Regions from separate parts of the Homo sapiens genome. Here region 2 is linked to region 1. Evidence: fine-mapped expression QTL. Tissue or cell type: whole blood. Region 1 holds a variant in brackets; the other region holds the start of a gene. All regions are shown on one strand. Distances are between the middles of the regions.

Region 1 (8,214 bases):
GTAACTGAGTTGAATGAGGTCAATGTTGGTTTCCAAAAACAGTGAGTTTACTTGAAGTTTACTTGAAGGAAGTAAGGAATATGGAATATCGAGGAGAAAGAACAAAGCAAGGACTAAACCTAGACCTGGAATATTTCAGGGAAAAAACCCTAGACTTACTTCTACATCCACTAAAGCCAAACTTCTGCACCTACCAAACCAAACTTCTCATGAACACACACACACACACACACACACACACACACCCCACAGAACCTATGAGATTCTACTAATTTTTTTTTACCAGATAAATAGAATAGTAAAATTAGTAGGGTACATTTTACCAGAAGTAAGCTGTTTTTACTTACAGCACTTCTGACACCAACTTTTTGGGTTGTTTTCTCACACCAACCAATTCTCCATGTCTCTGGAAATTGACTGGGTGTCCAACAATCCAATTCAATTAGCACTAACTACTCAGAGTTGGCCTCTGACTCTTCAGGTTTAAGGGCTCAGAGCCACAGGCTGCCCTCATTTCAGATGCTACGTGCAATATCAGATCACCTGTACTTCTCCACCCTCCCCTAGCTTTATTAAGCTATAGTTGGCAAATAAAAATGATATATATTTACAGTGTACAATGTGAGGTTTTGATATATGTATATGTGGTGAAATAATTAAATCAAAGTAATTAACATATCCATCACTGCACATACAACTTTTTTGTAGTGAGAACATTTAAAATCTATTGTCTTAGCAATTTTCCAGAATACAATACAGTATTCTTAACTATCATCACTATGCTGTACAATAGATCTCCAGAATTTATTCATCCTAACAGTTAGAAACCCTCTACCCTTTGACAGTATCTCCCCATTCCTTTCTCCTTACCCCCAGGCCCTGTTAACCACCATTTTACTCTCTGCTTCTATGAGTTCCACATATAAGTGAGATCTGTAGTATCTGTAGTCTTTCAGTGCCTGGCTTATCTCACTTAGCATAATATCCTTTAGGTTTACCCAGATTGTCATAAATGACAGAACTTCCTTATTTTGAAAGGCTGAACAATATTACATTGTGTGTGTGTGTGTAAAACATTTTCTTTATCCATTCATCCATTGATGGACACTTAGATTGATTTTCTGTCTTGGCTGTTGTGAATAATGCTGCAATGATTGTGGGGATGCAGATATCTCTTCAATATATTGATTTCCTTTCTTTTGGATATATATCCAGAAGTGGGATTGCTGGGTCATAAGGTAGTCCTATTATTAATTTCTGAGGAACCTCTACGTGATTTTCCATAGTGGCTGTACCAATTTACATTCTGACCCACATTGTACAAGGGTTCCCCTTTGTCCACATCCTCACCAACATGTATTATCATTTGTCTTTTTGATAGCTATTCGAACATGTGTGAGGTGATATCTCATTGTGGTTTTAATTTAACTTACATTTTCCTGATAATTAGTGATGTTGACCATTTTTTCATATACCTGTTGGCCATTCATACGTCTTCTTTTGAGAAATGTCTATTCAGGTCTTTTGCCTTTCTTTTCTCTTTTTTTTTTTTTTTTTTTTTTTGAGACGGAGTTTCACTCTTGTTGCCCAGGCTGAGTACAATGGCACAATCTCAGCTCACCGCAACCTCTGCTTCCCGGGTTCAAGAGATTCTCCTGCCTCAGCTTCCTGAGTAGCTGGGATTACAGGCGTGCACCACCACACCCAGCTAATTTTGTATTTTTAGTAGAGACAGGGTTTCTCCATGTTGGTCAGGGTGGTCTTGAACTCCCAATCTCAGGTGATTTGCCCACCTCGGCCTCCTAAAGTGCTGGGATTACAGACGTGAACCACTGCACCCGACCCTTTGCCCATTTTTAAATCTGGTTATGTGTTTTCTTGTTATTGAGTTGTTTGAATTCCCTGCATAGTTTGAATACTAACCTCTTATCAGATATATGGCTTGCAAATACTTTCTTTCATTCTATAGGTTGTTTCTTGTCTTTTTTCTCCTGCACATAGCTTGTATTCCATAGATTGTTTCTTTTTCTATAGGAAGCTTTTTAGTTTGATGCACTCTCGTTTGTCTATTTTTGTTTTTGCTGCCTGTGCTTTTAGGGTCATAACCAAAAAAAGTTATTGTTGAGGACAACGTCAAGAAGCTTTTTTCCTATGTTTTCTTCTAGTAGTTCTACAGTTTCAGGTCTTATGTTTAAGTCTTGAATCCATTTTGAGTTGATTTTTTTTTTTGCATATGGTGTGAGACAAGGGTCCAGTTTTATTCTTTTGCATGTGGATATCCAATTGTCCCAATACCATTTATTGAATAGTCTGCCCTTCTCTCATTGTGTGCTCCTGGCACCTTTGTTAAAGATCAATTGACCATAAATGTGTGGAATTATTTCTGGACTCTCCATTCTGTTCTATTGGTCTATATGTCTGTTTTTAATGCCAGTACCATGCTATTTTAGATCACCTGTACTTCTATATGACCAGCCATAAATCAAATATCCCCATAACCCCCTCCTAAGTTTCAATGATTTCCTAGACTGGCCAACAGAACTCAGGAAGGCACTTTACTTATATTTGTATTTTAAAGGATACAAATGAAGAGCCAATGAGTGGTATAGGGACGAGGCCCAGGAAAGTCCCAAGCATAACAGCTTCTGTACCATGGAGCTGGGGTGTGCTACCCTCCCAGAATGCGGATGTGTTAACCAACTGGGAAGCTCTCTGAACTCCATTGCTTATGGGTTTTTTTTTTTTTTTTTTTTTTTTGAGAAAGAGTGTCGCTCTGTCGCCCAGGTTGGAGTGCAGTGGCGCAATCTCGGCTCACTGCAAGCTCCGCCTCCCGGGTTCACGCCATCCTCCTGGCTCAGCCTTCTGAGTAGCTGGGACTACAGGCGCCTGCCACCACGCCCGGCTAATTTTTTGTATTTTTAGTAGAGACGGGGTTTCACCGTGTTAGCCAGGATGGTTTCGATCTCCTGACCTCGTGATCCGCCCACCTCGGCCTCCCAAAGTGCTGGGATTACAGGCGTGAGCCACCGCGCCCGGCCAGCTTATGGGTTTTTATGCAAGTTTCATTAAGTAGACATGATTCATTAAATCATTGACCATTGGTGATTGAACTCAATCTCTACCCCCTCTCCCCTCCCCAGCAGAATGGGGATGAAAGTTCCAAGTTTCTAATCAAGACTTGGCCTTTTTGGCTTCCAGCCCCTATGCTGAAGCTTGCTAGGGGCCGTCAGCCACCAGACATCTAATTAGCATGCAAAATATAGTCTTACCCTTATCATTCCCAGGATTCCAAAATGTTTCGGGAGCTGTGTGCCAGGAATCTGGGACAAAGATAAGACAAAGATATTTACTTTTTATAATACCATAAAGGCCATTTTTGCTTGCTGCTTCTTGTTATCTGGTGATGTTGTTAAGCATGAAGAAATCATTCTAAAATCTGAGGCTGAAAGTTCATATCAATAACTAAAACTGTACAGATTTAAATGTGTGTTGACTTTAACTTAGAATGCACATCCATTCAGATGTTACATATGCACATTCACAAGGCACATTTGAAGCCTATGCTGTGAATGAAGAGTAGTCTGGGAGGCCCTGCAGCCCTTAGCAATTTGGTCTTTACTTGGAGTTTGTATTTCCTTCCTCGCTTTTTA[T/A]ATTACGTGGCCTTGTCTCATGATGGCACCATTGTGACATATTGTACCAGCTGGCCACACTCTGTTCAACTGTTGTTTGCTTAATGCATTCTCTCATGATAAACTGGACCCAAAGCTTACCTATTCTGCCCCCCACTCCAACTTTAGAATGGCAGGCAAATGATGAAGTTTCCCATGGGAAATCTCTTTTATTTCTTTTTAATATTTTATGTATGTATTTATTATTTAGAGACACTGTCTCTCTCTCTCTCTGTCACCCAGGCTGGAATGCAGTGGCGCAATCATAGCTCACTGCGGCCTAGAATTCCTGGGATCAAACGATCCTCCTGCTTCAGGCTCCCAAAGCGCTGGGATTACAGGTGTGAGCCACCACGCCTGACATCTGCAGGAAATTTTAACTTTATTTTCACCACCATTAGTTCAATTACGATCAAGAATTTACACGTACAAGTCTTGTAAGCAGCTTTGTATTGCTTAACTCCATTTTTGCAATCATCTTAGCTACTGTTTCTGTATTGATGTTACGCAAACGTATACCACTTTATTGGTAAACTGTTTGTTATTTTGTTTTTATATTTTAGTTGGTTCTACTTCTTTGGGTGTCTTTTCTATTGTCTTATTCCTTAATGTGTATGCTTTAAATGTGTATGTCTGAGATACTGTTAAAAAAAAAGATTAATTTTACATTTGGATGGCTGGTAAATAACATAATTTTAGTGGACATTTATTACAATAAATAAAAGAGAAGAGTAAATTCTTGTAGGTTTCTATGAAATCAGTTTTCTTGTAGCATTATACTCACCTAATATAGACTAAACAAAACATTCCTGTGCTTAACAATTAGTAGCAAGTCCATGCCATTCACTAAATATTTATTGAGGACTTTCTCTGGGCCAGACACATATGGGGTAGAGCTCACAGGACATAGCAAGATGCTGTGTGTCTAGAGTTAAAAGAGCAACAACAGGCCCTATCACTCTTCTGCTTAAAATACTTGGATAGCCTTAGGTCCAAATCAGTTCAAAATATTCCTTTACCATCCAGACACTGGCTCAAGGAGCTCAAAAAGGGAAAAGGTGGCTTTAAAATACTGAGCTGTGGCTGGGTGTGGTGGTTCATGCCTGTAATCCCAGCACTTTGGGATGCTGAAGAAGGTAGATCACCTGGGGCTAAGAGTTTGAGACCAGCCTGGCCAACATGGTGAAACCTCATCTCTACTAAAAATACAAAAAATTAGCTGGGTGTGGTGGTGCACACCTGTAGTCCCAGCTACTCGGGAGGCTGAGGCATGAGAATTTCTTGAACCCAAGAGGTGAAGGTTGCAGTGAGCTGAAATTGCGCCACTGCACTTCAGCCTGGGCAGCAGACTGAACACTCTGTCTGAACAACAGCAACAACAAAAAGATGCTAAGCTGTGCCTCTGACCCTGCATTTTTTCCTCTTTGCTATGTCTTAGTACTTTCTGGTCATGTTTCATATTAATTATTTCTGGTTTCCTGTCAGCTTTGAATTAATCCTAGCTTTGTCCCCTGGGCCCTCACTTTCAGATCCTCTCAGTTCTATTCCATGCATATTATGGGGAGTGTCTTACCCTACCCATAACCACACCCAGCTTCTGTAAGTATAATCCCAGAATGGCATCTGAGACCCCACTTGCCTGGCAGAGGAGTTTCGATGTGTTCCATAGCTTTGATGTTACTATTCCTTACTTTAAGACACAAGATGCTTTTAGATCTGACACATGTTCATTTCACTAGCTTGTCTCCTGCCATTCCTCAACTAGGATGTTATGGATCTGTCCTATTGAATTTCTTGAGCAGTTTCTGGAGCATGTAATTTTATTTCCCATCTCAGTTTTTGCACATGGCACATTTCCTTCTCATAAAAACCCTTGCTCCACCATCCCCAATTCTCCAGCTATCTCCTCCTCTTAACCTCAAAGCTAGTTTCAGGGGTCGCATCTCCCAAGAAGTTCCAATCTCACTTAGATGCTTCTCCTTTAGGCTACAGTGTTTATGGCACAGTAGCAATTGCTTTACTTATGTGTCTCCCCCCTGCTCCCAGATTTTGAAAGAGGTTACCACATTTTATTCGACTTTTTTTTTTTTTTTAAACAGAGTGTCACTCTGTCACCCAGGCTGGAGTGCAGTGGTGCCAGCTTGGCTCACTGCAATCTCTGCCTCCCGGGTTCAAGTGATTCTTATGCCTCAGCCTCCCAAGTAGCTGGGATTAAAGGTGGGTGCCACCACACTTTGTATTTTCAGTAGAGACAGGGTTTCGCCATGTTGCCCAGTCTGGTCTAGCATTCCTGAACTCAGGCCATCTGCCAGCCTTAGCCTCCCAAAGTGCTGGTACTGCAGGCATGAGCCACCATGCCCAACCTTTTATTAGACTTTCTATCCTATCCCTAGCCTATGATAGGGACTCATTAAGTGACTATTGAGTAAATCAGTGAATGAATGAATTAATGAATAAGTGAATATATTGCCTAATACGTCTACTTAAAGCCTCTTAGAAAGCAGGTGTGGTATGAATTGTAAACAAACAATAGTACTACAATCTTAATATGGAGGGTGAAAAATAGAAAGGTCTTCAACAGATAATATTTTTTTCTATTTATATATGTTCCTTTTTTTCTAGATATGAGCAAAAGTCTGAGTGCCAATTGCTGAATCAAGATTTACCCAAATGTTACCAAAACCAATGGCAAGTTAGTCAAATTTAGGACTCATCAGTGAGTTAACAATTATTGAGTATCTATTATGTGCACATCACTGTTTATAAGGATGTTGTGATTTAGTGAGGGAGCATATACAAAAATAACCCTGAGGAAGGGCAGACTGTAATAATCAGATTAGAGACTCAAACCACATTCTGTGGGATTCAAATGGAAAAAAAGATTAATTCTTATTAGAAGTAATGAAGTCAACAATGTATGGGGTGGGCACAGGCTGTGAAAATCAGGACAACCAGCTAATTAATGTTGCACAGAATAAATGGTGAATTGCATAACATCTATTGCTTGTCAGCTGGTTGTTTTGCTCTACAACTGCCTTAACCTCTGAGTGACATGGAAGTGAGAAAAAGAAGGAAGTGCAGCAGGACTCAAAGGGGAAGAAATGACTCTTGCTAAAGAAGGAAGAGAAGTGGAACCAACCACAGGGAGGAGAGATGGGGTAAAAATTGCTTTGAGGCCGGGCGCAGTGGCTCACGCCTGTAATCCCAGCACTTTGGAAGGCCGGCCAAGGCGGGCGGATCACGAGGTCAGGAGATGGAGACCATCCTGGCTAACACGGTGAAACCCCGTCTCTACTAAAAAAAATACAAAAAATTAGCAGGGCGTGGTGGCGGGCGCCTGCGGAGGCTGAGGCAGGAGAATGGTGTGAACCCGGGAGGCGGAGCTTGCGGTGAGCGGAGATCGCGCCACTGCACTCCAGCCTGGGCGACAGAGGGAGACTCCGTCTCAAAAAATAAAATAAAATTGTTTTGATTCCGTTGTAGCATTTCCTTGAGTCTCTTCAGTTCTAAGAATAGGGAAAGGAAGAAAAGAAGAGAGCCTGTCATGGAACCAAAGGAAGACAGCATCAAAATAAGGAGAAAAGAGCAAAGAAGCAGAAACAACTTGGAATTATGCCACAGAATTATGCCACCATACTGCTGCTTATAAAACGTTCATACTGAAAACGTTTTAGTGACGGTACAAATAAAAAGGTGGAGGAGGCATGGTTGTAGATAACGGTCTAAGGAAAAAAGTGTGTTACTATGGTTATCATTAGAACTTTTCACAAATAGTCCCACTCTTCCCATTAATGTACACTGGGGGATCAAACTGCCACCTCCTTTGAGGATTTATATGGCTGTGTGGCTTGCATTGGCCAATAAAATGTGAGGGGAAGTGACAGATATGTAGAGTGTATGAGAAATACCTTGCAGCCACTGAGATTTGGAGTGTTAGTATAAGCTAACCTGTCTTTACTAATACAGTTACCCACAAAGAAAAGGAAAAGATTGCTAATATTTATGCAAAAAAAAAGATTGAGAGAGATAAATTTGTAGGACAGGTCAAAGGAGTACTATAAGAGTTGGATTTAAGTTAGAAATAAAATGTAAAGCTAAATAGTTAAGCATTATAAAATGTGTAATAATTTCTTTCTTCTAATTATTGTATGTCTTTCTCTTTGTAATATTCTTCTTCATACACAGCATCTGCTTTTACAGTTTCAACTACTGCCTCAGTGTGAACACTTAGAAACTCATCTATCTGTTTTGACAATAATATTCACATTTCTAACTGCCTACAAAAATGTACATATTTTAAAAGACTCCCAGTACAACTGTTCACACATGTTCATGTCTAAGAATGAAACAATGAAACTCCCTAGAAGACCAAACCTCCCCCAAAAAAATTCCTTTCCCCTTCCTGTTAACAAAATCTCCCCTCAAGCTTTGCTAGTTAACTTAGATCACTTCCTCCTTATTCCTCTTTATTCAATCTCTGCTTCAAAATGCCTCTCAGATTTACCACTTTCTCTACTCACATCTCAGCTACCCTAGTCCAAATGTA
Region 2 (8,214 bases), 140 kb after region 1:
CCTAGATGGTATAGCCCACTACACACCAGGATTATATATTATAGCCTGTTACTCCTAACCTACAAACCTGTGCCACACATTACTGTACTGAATACTATAAGCAACTGTAACAAAATGGTATTTGTGTAGCTAAACATATATCTAAACATAGAACAGATACAGTAAAAATATGGTATTATAATTTATAGGACCACCACTGTATCTGTGGTGTGTTGTTGACTGAAATGTCACGCGGCACATGACTTTATTTGTTTAGAGGTTCTAGCAAGGGAACTTAGCTATGAAGAAAAGTCCTTACCTTTTTAAGGTTATGTGAAGTTATGATCTCTAACTGATTTGGCAGCATCAGGAAGTGTAAACACAGAAAGGTGAGGGGGGAAGGGTTTGCCATGTGTTCATATCAGTTTAGTTAGCTTAATATCAAAAGATTATAATTTAGATAACAAAGTGTTATAATAAAAGTAAAAATTCTGGTCAATTCTCTCTTCCATATTCCTTTTCTCTGCCACTTTCTTAAGTCATTGACGATGACTTAAGGTTCCTCAGGTGCAGCATACTTTTACCTATTTTCTCCTTTGTTAAGACTTAGACACTAAGATCTCTAAGAACAGAGGCCCTGTTTGTCTTGCACATTATTTTATCATAGCGTCTAGAAAAGCCTGGCACATGGCAGGAAGGCAAGAACTATCTGTTGAATAAATTTAGTCTATATTGGCAGTTGCTTCAAGTACTGGCTAAAGGGTCTGGGCAGAGTATTGGAAGGATAATTATTTTTTAAATCTTGCTTCTGCCACTTAGTATCTGTGGGATTTTGGAAAGTTACTCAATTTCTAAGACTTGGCCGGGCACGATGGCTCACGCCTGTAATCCCAGCACTTTGGGAGGCTGAGGTGGGCGCATCACAAGGACAGGAGATCGAGACCATCCTGGCTAACACAGTGAAACCCCGTCTCTACTAAAAGTACAAAAAATTAGCCAGGCGTGGTGGCAGGCGCCTGTAGTCCCAGCTACTCAGGAGGCTGAGGCAGGAGAATGGCGTGAACCCAGGAGGTGGAGCTTGCAGTGAGCCGAGATCATGCCACTGCACTTTAGCCTGGGCAAGAGAGCAAGACTGCCTCAAAAAAAAAAAAAAAAAAATTTCCAAGACTTGTCTGTTTTCTTGTATTGGATGGGCACGATACTTGGACATGATACTTTTTGAAATTATTGTTATGAGCATTACATTTTTAAAATGTAGTGTTTTTAGCACATAGGAGGCAATAAAAAAAACCTGCTCCTTCTCCGAACACTCCCTGCCTCTCTACAACATACCTTTTAGTTGGAAGAGCCTAGGAAATACCTAGGAAATGTGTTATTCAAGTTTTTTCCTTCTGTTTTTGGTCTGCTCCTTTACAATCAAAGCAAAGAGGCCTTCAAGTTGAGAACTAACTAGTTCCCAAAGGACTGATGGGTTCACTGTAAATAGTGTTTGGCACTTAGAACCTTTATGCCTGACACACAGTTCAACACATATTTTTTGAAAGAGTAAATTAATTAACAAGGTACTGAATAAGGATGATGCTCCAACCAGATAATTATGGGATGGACATGCTTTATTTATTTTTAGAAACAGTGTCTTGCTCTGTCATCCAGGCTGGAATGCGGTGGTAGGATCATAATTCACTGCAGGCTTAAACTCCTGGGCTCAAGGGATCCTCCTGCTTCAGCCTCCCAAGTAGCTATGACTATAGGCTTATGCCTCCATGCCCAGTAGACATGCTAAATGTGTGAAAAAGTGGGCAGATTTTATCAAATGAGAGGTTTGGAGTGATGGTGTGTCCGAATGCGTGATTTCAAAGCGTTCTCATTCATTCGTTCAATCACCATCTACTGTGTATCTACCTTGCATCAACCATAATACTAGCATGGATGTATCTCTGCACCCCCATGTTAGTGCAATTAGTCAATCACAATAATAATTAGAGAACAGAAGGATATATGAGTAACAAAAGGAAATCAGTAACTGCTTATTGGTATGTGAAACAGCATGACATCCAAGTATGTCAAGTAGTGTGATACTGTCTGGAGTGCATTTAAAGGAATCAGAAGAGATGAGGCTCAACAAGTAGTAGGTAGGTAGGGGAATTTAGAGGAATGGGAAGAGACAAGGCTCAACAGGTTTAGGTGGCCATGTGAGTTGGCACATGTGGAACTTCAGGTAAGATATTTCTTAAATAGACTGAAGAAACTGACACAGAGAAAACTTAAGTATATAAGATAAAGTAGGTCAGTAATGCCTATTCTTAGTTCTAATTCCCCATCTTCTTCTAAATTGGTCCATGTATTTCATTTCACAATTACACATAAACCTCTACAATGGTCACTGATTATTTACATACTTAGAAACTTCTAAAATGAGGCCAGATCATGAAGAACCATGTATGCCAGGTTGAGAGTTCTTAATTTCATCCTTTAGGGTAGCGATGGGGGAGTTACTGGAAGATTTTAATGCAAAGAAAAGACAATCACATTTTGGTTTCAGAAGGATCTGAATTGGAGAGTCAGGGTATAAAAGACAGAGAATCAGCTAAGAAGTTACTAAAACAGTCTAGTATAACAGAGATCATAAAGGCTGGAACTAAGGCAACAGAAGTGGGGTTAGAGATGGGATGTGTTTGAGAGATAAAAGTAGATTAGGCTTGATGAGGGAAATAAGACAGAAGGAGAACTCAGAATCACAGCTTTCTGAGCGGAGCTTCTGGACATGTGGTGAGGCCATTAACGGATATAGGGAACAGTATGGATTAAAGATGTAGGATGCTGGGCAAGGGCAAGAGAAGTTCAGTATTGGCCATGGTGAGTTGGCATCTGTGGAACTTCAGGTAGAGATATTTCCTGAATAGACCAAGGAAACTGACACAGAAAACTTAAGCATATAAGACAACATAGGTCAGTAATGTCTACCCTTAGAACAATTCCCCATCTTCTTTTAAATTTCTCCATATATTTCAGTTCACAACCACACATAAACCTCTTCAATGATTACTGATTATTTACATAGTTAGAAATTCTACTATGTATACTTGGAAAAAAATAAAATATTTCTAACAGCAGCTTGTTTGTTAATAGGGTAAACATGTCAACAATTATTGTCACAAAAGTGGTCTGAAAGAACCTCTTTGGTAAAAGTAATAGTGTAATACTTTCCTGTTATGTACTTAGGAATGACTGGCATTTTCCCTAAGGATAAAATATTCAGCTGTTGATAGCTAGACCATGTTAGTGTTGACCTCAGATTGGGGTTTACCAATGCAGAGGCTCAGGCCAATCAGTAACTTATACAGTGGAACCCATAGACCAGTAGCAATGATGGCTGATAACATGTCTTGAGAATTTGGTAATTCCACTGCCCAGTGGACGTGGGGCAGCAAACTGGGCACCAAACCACAGATGGATTGCAGTACACTGAAGGAATTCATTATAGTTTTGTGAAATTGGAGGCTGGCTTGACAAAGATGAAGCCTGCTGGGATTAAAAACTTGTGTGTTCTTGGCAAGAGCATGTTGCTGCAGAATTTCACCAGCCATAGTGGGGAAAAAAGAGGGGTGAGGGGGCGTGGGGAAAATGGGAGACCACAAAATTCCTGATATGATACATAAAATGTTAAATATCTATCAGCTTTGCATCCTTTGAGAGTCACCAGATTGAAGCACAGTATTTTGGATTTGGCTGGCAGATGGTGTACACAGACTTTCTGAGAATGTTAGCATTTCATTTGAAACTAGCAAGATTACATGTGACTATCATGGTAACTTAGCACTCACATATTTTTCAACTTATCCCTAACCCTGGGTTGAATGTAGAGGCTCTAATAACATATAAAAGGCTTTGTTAATGTATGGTCTGGGTCTCATTGAATAGTATTTCAGGATGTAATACTTCTTTTAAAATGTCCACAGGGCAGTGTCAACGTCTTTCCATGGAAATCTGGCTCACCCAATAAGAGAAAAGAGGCCAAAGGTAAGAAAGACTAAACCAGGGGAGATGGCAGGCAGTGATGTCTGGACTGTTTGAATGGGACTTCTCCATTTACCGCCCCTCTCACTTCCTTCTATGGTCTGGACCTTTAATCACCACAGCAGTCAGCCATGTAGGGTCAAGCTAATCGCTGTTGACATCATCCTACTACTTCCCTTTTCAAATTCCAGTGAAGCTATGTGTTTCCTGTCCTATTCCACACCCTAGAGAATGAATACCGGCCAGCTAGTATCTAAATTTAGAATGGCAGCAACGTGTCGGGTTTTCGGAGTAGAGATAAACAAAACCAGGTGACATTTCCAAGCCTCTCAAGGAAAGGGGGGAAAAAACCTTTCTGGGGTAAGTAAATAAGGAGAGCTTCAATAGTTCCATGGTAGAGAGAGGCCTGCTGGAAGGTTCAGAAAATAGGCCGTTTGGAACCTTCTCCTTTAAGCCAGGAGGGCGGCTTTGGGAGGCGTCTTGAAATACATTCTTGACTCTGCTGGGAAAGCTCGGGGAGCCAGAGGCCTAATACCCCCCACTTCAGGGGAAGCTGTGAAGGCAGCTGCACCTCCTTTGTCAAGCTGTTGGTTTCAACCACAGACACGAGGACACACTTGAGGTGGGGGGATAAGGGGAGAAGCCTGCCGCCCCGCCCCACCCCCGCCAGCACACCGCCCTCGCCATTCCTCTCCCGCCCCGCCCCGCCCGGCGTCTGTGACCCCGCGGGCCGAGCCTCAGGCGACCTGTTGGCAGGGAGAGTCACGTGATGCGCCGGCTGTGCACTCCCCTCGGGCGGGCCTCCTGTTGCGCCCGCCTGGCGAGTTCCATCACGTAACGCGCGGGCGCCGCCCAGCTCTTCCCTCGCTGAGCGAGGGAGGGCGGGCGTCGAAGAGGAAAGGGAAGGGGAAAGGGGCGGGAGAAGGGAGGAGGGGCGGTGTCCGAGTCACGTGACCCGGGGCAGCCCGGAAAGCTCCGAGGAGGAGCCTGGCGCCGCCATTTTCCTGCAGCTGCCTGTTCCTCTTACCCTGCCCGGCTCCAGCTGACCCGGGAAGGGGTGGGCTGAACTGAGGCGGGGGCAAGGGAGTGCCCGACATCTTGTCCGACTCCGCGGGTGACACGAGCCGGTTCTCTCTGGACTGGTGGCAGCGCGCGGCCCCGAACCGCGCCCCAGGCCGGCAGGCGGGGAAGGAGCCGGTGGGGGTAGGGGGTGCGGTGGGGGGTGGGGACCCTCCGGCTCTTGGGGGTCCCAGTCCCCGCCGGCTGCTGAGCGGGTGGGGTGGTGGAGGAGCTGCAGAGATGTCCGGCCAGAGCCTGACGGACCGAATCACTGCCGCCCAGCACAGTGTCACCGGCTCTGCCGTATCCAAGACAGTATGCAAGGCCACGACCCACGAGATCATGGGGCCCAAGAAAAAGCACCTGGACTGTGAGTGAAGCCGACCGCGGCCCCCGCTCCCCGGCGCCCGCGCGACCCGCGCGCGTCCTTCTCTCTCTCTCTTGTCTTTCACCCTTCTACTGCCTCTTCCCTCCCTGCGTCTTCTCTGGCACGGCCGGTCCTGTGCCCGTTGAGCTGTGTTCTTTTGCTTCCATCACACCTGCCTTCACGGCCTCCGCTCCCCGTCTCAAAATCTGACAAGCCACTCCCCTCCCTATTCCTAGGGGACCCTCGTCTCCCTGCCCGGTGCGCTACCACACCCCATCATACCCAACCAACTTGCTTCCCCACCTGGCTTCTCACCCCCTACCCGTCTCCACTGCAGCCTTCTGCTCTTCCTTCCCACCCGTCCGGTGCCGCCTCGTCGCCCTCGTCTGAGCGTCTCCAAGCCCCATTGTTTCTTCATCAGCCTCCTTCGGGTTTCAGTAAACGCCTGGTTCCTTGCATCCAGATCCTTGTTATCCCTCCGGGCTGCCTCCCTGGAAGGGATCCCCCACTTCCTTTGCTCCACTAGCTGCTTCGCCCATCCCTTCCTGGCTTTCTGTTCCACCTTCCCTCCTGCTTTTGGGTTACCTTTTCATCGCCTCTATAGTAGCTTCAGTGTAGTTTCTTCGACTCATTTTAAATACCATACCCAGTTACCCGACTTTTATTTCAGATTACCTTCTTTGTGGGAGTGAAAGTAAAAGGATTCAATTTGGTGTAGGGAAAGCTTTCTGGAAAGTTGGGATTTTTATTTGCCTCTGGTGGAATTTAATCGTTGTGTTGTCCATACTTTTGACTGGGGTGAGTTTGTGACTGTCAGCTCTGCCCCCCAGCTTTTCACATGGGGATATGGAAAAAGGCATTTTGCTGATACTCTTATCAGTTCCTGGAACTGTTAATTCTGGCGGCTTGAATTCAGAAGCTTGAGTGTTAAGCGTAGACTGTTGGAATTCCAAATGGATTAATAAATTTACTTACAAATAACATACATCCCTTAAAAAAATTGGCAAAATGATGTTTGATGATGCTTGAGTTTGGATGTTTTAATTATGCCAGTTACCTTTTGAGGAACTAGCTTTAGCTTCTCTTACACGACATAGTATTCGTCCATTCGCTAACGTAGATACAATTAGTAGAGCTAACTCCTCGTAACTTTTTTCTAACCTGGAAGTCACCTGTAATACCCTCCTTTTTCTTTGCGCTCTTTTACCCCAGGGTACAAAGCTCATTGGATCACTCAAGCCAATGGAGCTTAGACCTGAAACTTTTCAGGGAAAAATAGGGCAATAGTCACGATAAGTAAGTTCCCTTTTTAAATGACTGGACACATTAGTCTGACTGACTTTCATCATACATGAAAGTTACTTTGTTTTACTGTTTGAAGCAAGAGTGAGCATGCCCTGAAAGATAATTCACTGTCTGGAAGCCTGTTTTGATTTCTCATTTGGACTTTGGCCGTAAAGTTTGCACTTTAAAAAAAATGTACGAAATGTAGATTCTTCCAAGTTACTGTGCTCATGAATGCTGTTAGAACAAGTTTTTGCTACACAGAAGCCTATTATTCTTTGTGATTGTTCCTCCACTGTGGAAAAAAGTTTTAAATAAAAAAGCATTAGTGCTTGATTCTTTCAGATATGCATGCAGGCTGCTTTTAAACTCTCAGTCCTTGCTTGTCTTAGAGAATGGAGAATATGTTTAAATGGTGACACTCTTATGAACAGAAAACTTTTTAAAATGCATCGTAAAGCCATATGTGATTTTTTGATTATCTGATACGTGTAGTAGACGTTTCTGCTATTTACGGCTCTTCAAATACTACTTGGTTTGCCCTACCAAATCTTACAGTTTGTCCTGACACTGTGTTAATTCTTTTGTTAGTTGCTTTTGGTTTTTTTTTGTTTTTTTTTTTTGTATGGGAGTATGAAGAAACTAGTTGTGACTGTGTGAACTATTTTCCTCTTTCCTCATTCAAAATAAGAATCGATAAGGCTTTTAAAAGTTTTTTTTGTAAAGGTTTGTGTCTTATTTCAAATGTAGCAGTGGTTCTTTTAAAGCATTGTCAAAAAGAGGAGAAAATAGGTAGGGTTAGAAGAGTGCTATTTGCATGTTGTTTCATAAATGTTATTAGCTATTTCTCTTGTTATAGCCACTACTGCAGATAGATGGTAACTGGGATTAGGTTTGGAGGATAATCTTGCATTTGTCGTTCTTTTTCTCTACCACTTCTGTGTTTACAAGCTCCCACGTTTTTGGAACTTGAATATACCTGGTAGTATTTGATTTAAAAATATATGTGTCGTTAATGTGCTTCTGTTTCTTTTCAATGAGGTTTTAAAATACAGGGATACTATTTTCCCTACATTGTTGATTAAAATGTCCTGTAATCAGTTCTCACTAATAAAATACCTTTATCTTAGGTAAAGTCTGACCAGTGAGTGGTTTACTAAACAAATACCTTCCTTGCACACACTAACATGCTTTGAGAAAATTAAAAAGTCTTCTACGGACAGTTCATGGTGTTGACATCATGAACTTTAGGCTTTAATACAGAAACCTGTCATTTCAAGTAATTTTTTGTCTTTTAGGAATTTTTCTTTATAGTGAAAGCTTAGTTTATGTGCACCTTTTAATGCCCCTAGCAACTGATGCTTATTTATATGAATCTAATGAAAATGATTTCATTTTAAAATGGCAGCATTTAACAAAAAATATGCTTAGGACTGTTGTTTTTCGTATAAGCCCTTAGAGTGTGGAGGTGGTTTCTGTCAGTTTCTCGCCAAGATCTTTCCACATTA

The links. PIP is the estimated chance that this variant, and not a neighbour inherited with it, causes the effect.
Region 2: PICALM starts here. The variant in region 1 is fine-mapped to the expression of PICALM in whole blood (TOPMed, PIP 0.98).

The regions. Positions count from the first base shown.
Region 1 is chr11:86,201,534-86,209,747 of GRCh38, reverse strand. No RefSeq gene overlaps it. Among named protein-coding and RNA genes, the nearest start is that of LINC02695, 12 kb to the right of the region's middle. RefSeq lists enhancers at 6,537-7,037, 7,038-7,538. The variant T/A (reference allele first, on the strand shown) is at 3,651.
Region 2 is chr11:86,065,862-86,074,075 of GRCh38, reverse strand. PICALM (phosphatidylinositol binding clathrin assembly protein) reads left to right here and starts at 4,992. Exons shown (of 20, transcript NM_007166.4): 1 at 4,992-5,425. The coding sequence starts at 5,296. It overlaps LOC124902731 (a long non-coding RNA gene), which reads right to left and starts at 4,152. Exons shown (of 2, transcript XR_007062823.1): 1 at 2,379-4,152; 2 at 1,575-1,758. RefSeq lists silencers at 4,478-4,747, 4,898-5,067, 5,208-5,257, 5,328-5,377 and enhancers at 4,003-5,202, 4,942-5,643, 5,644-6,346.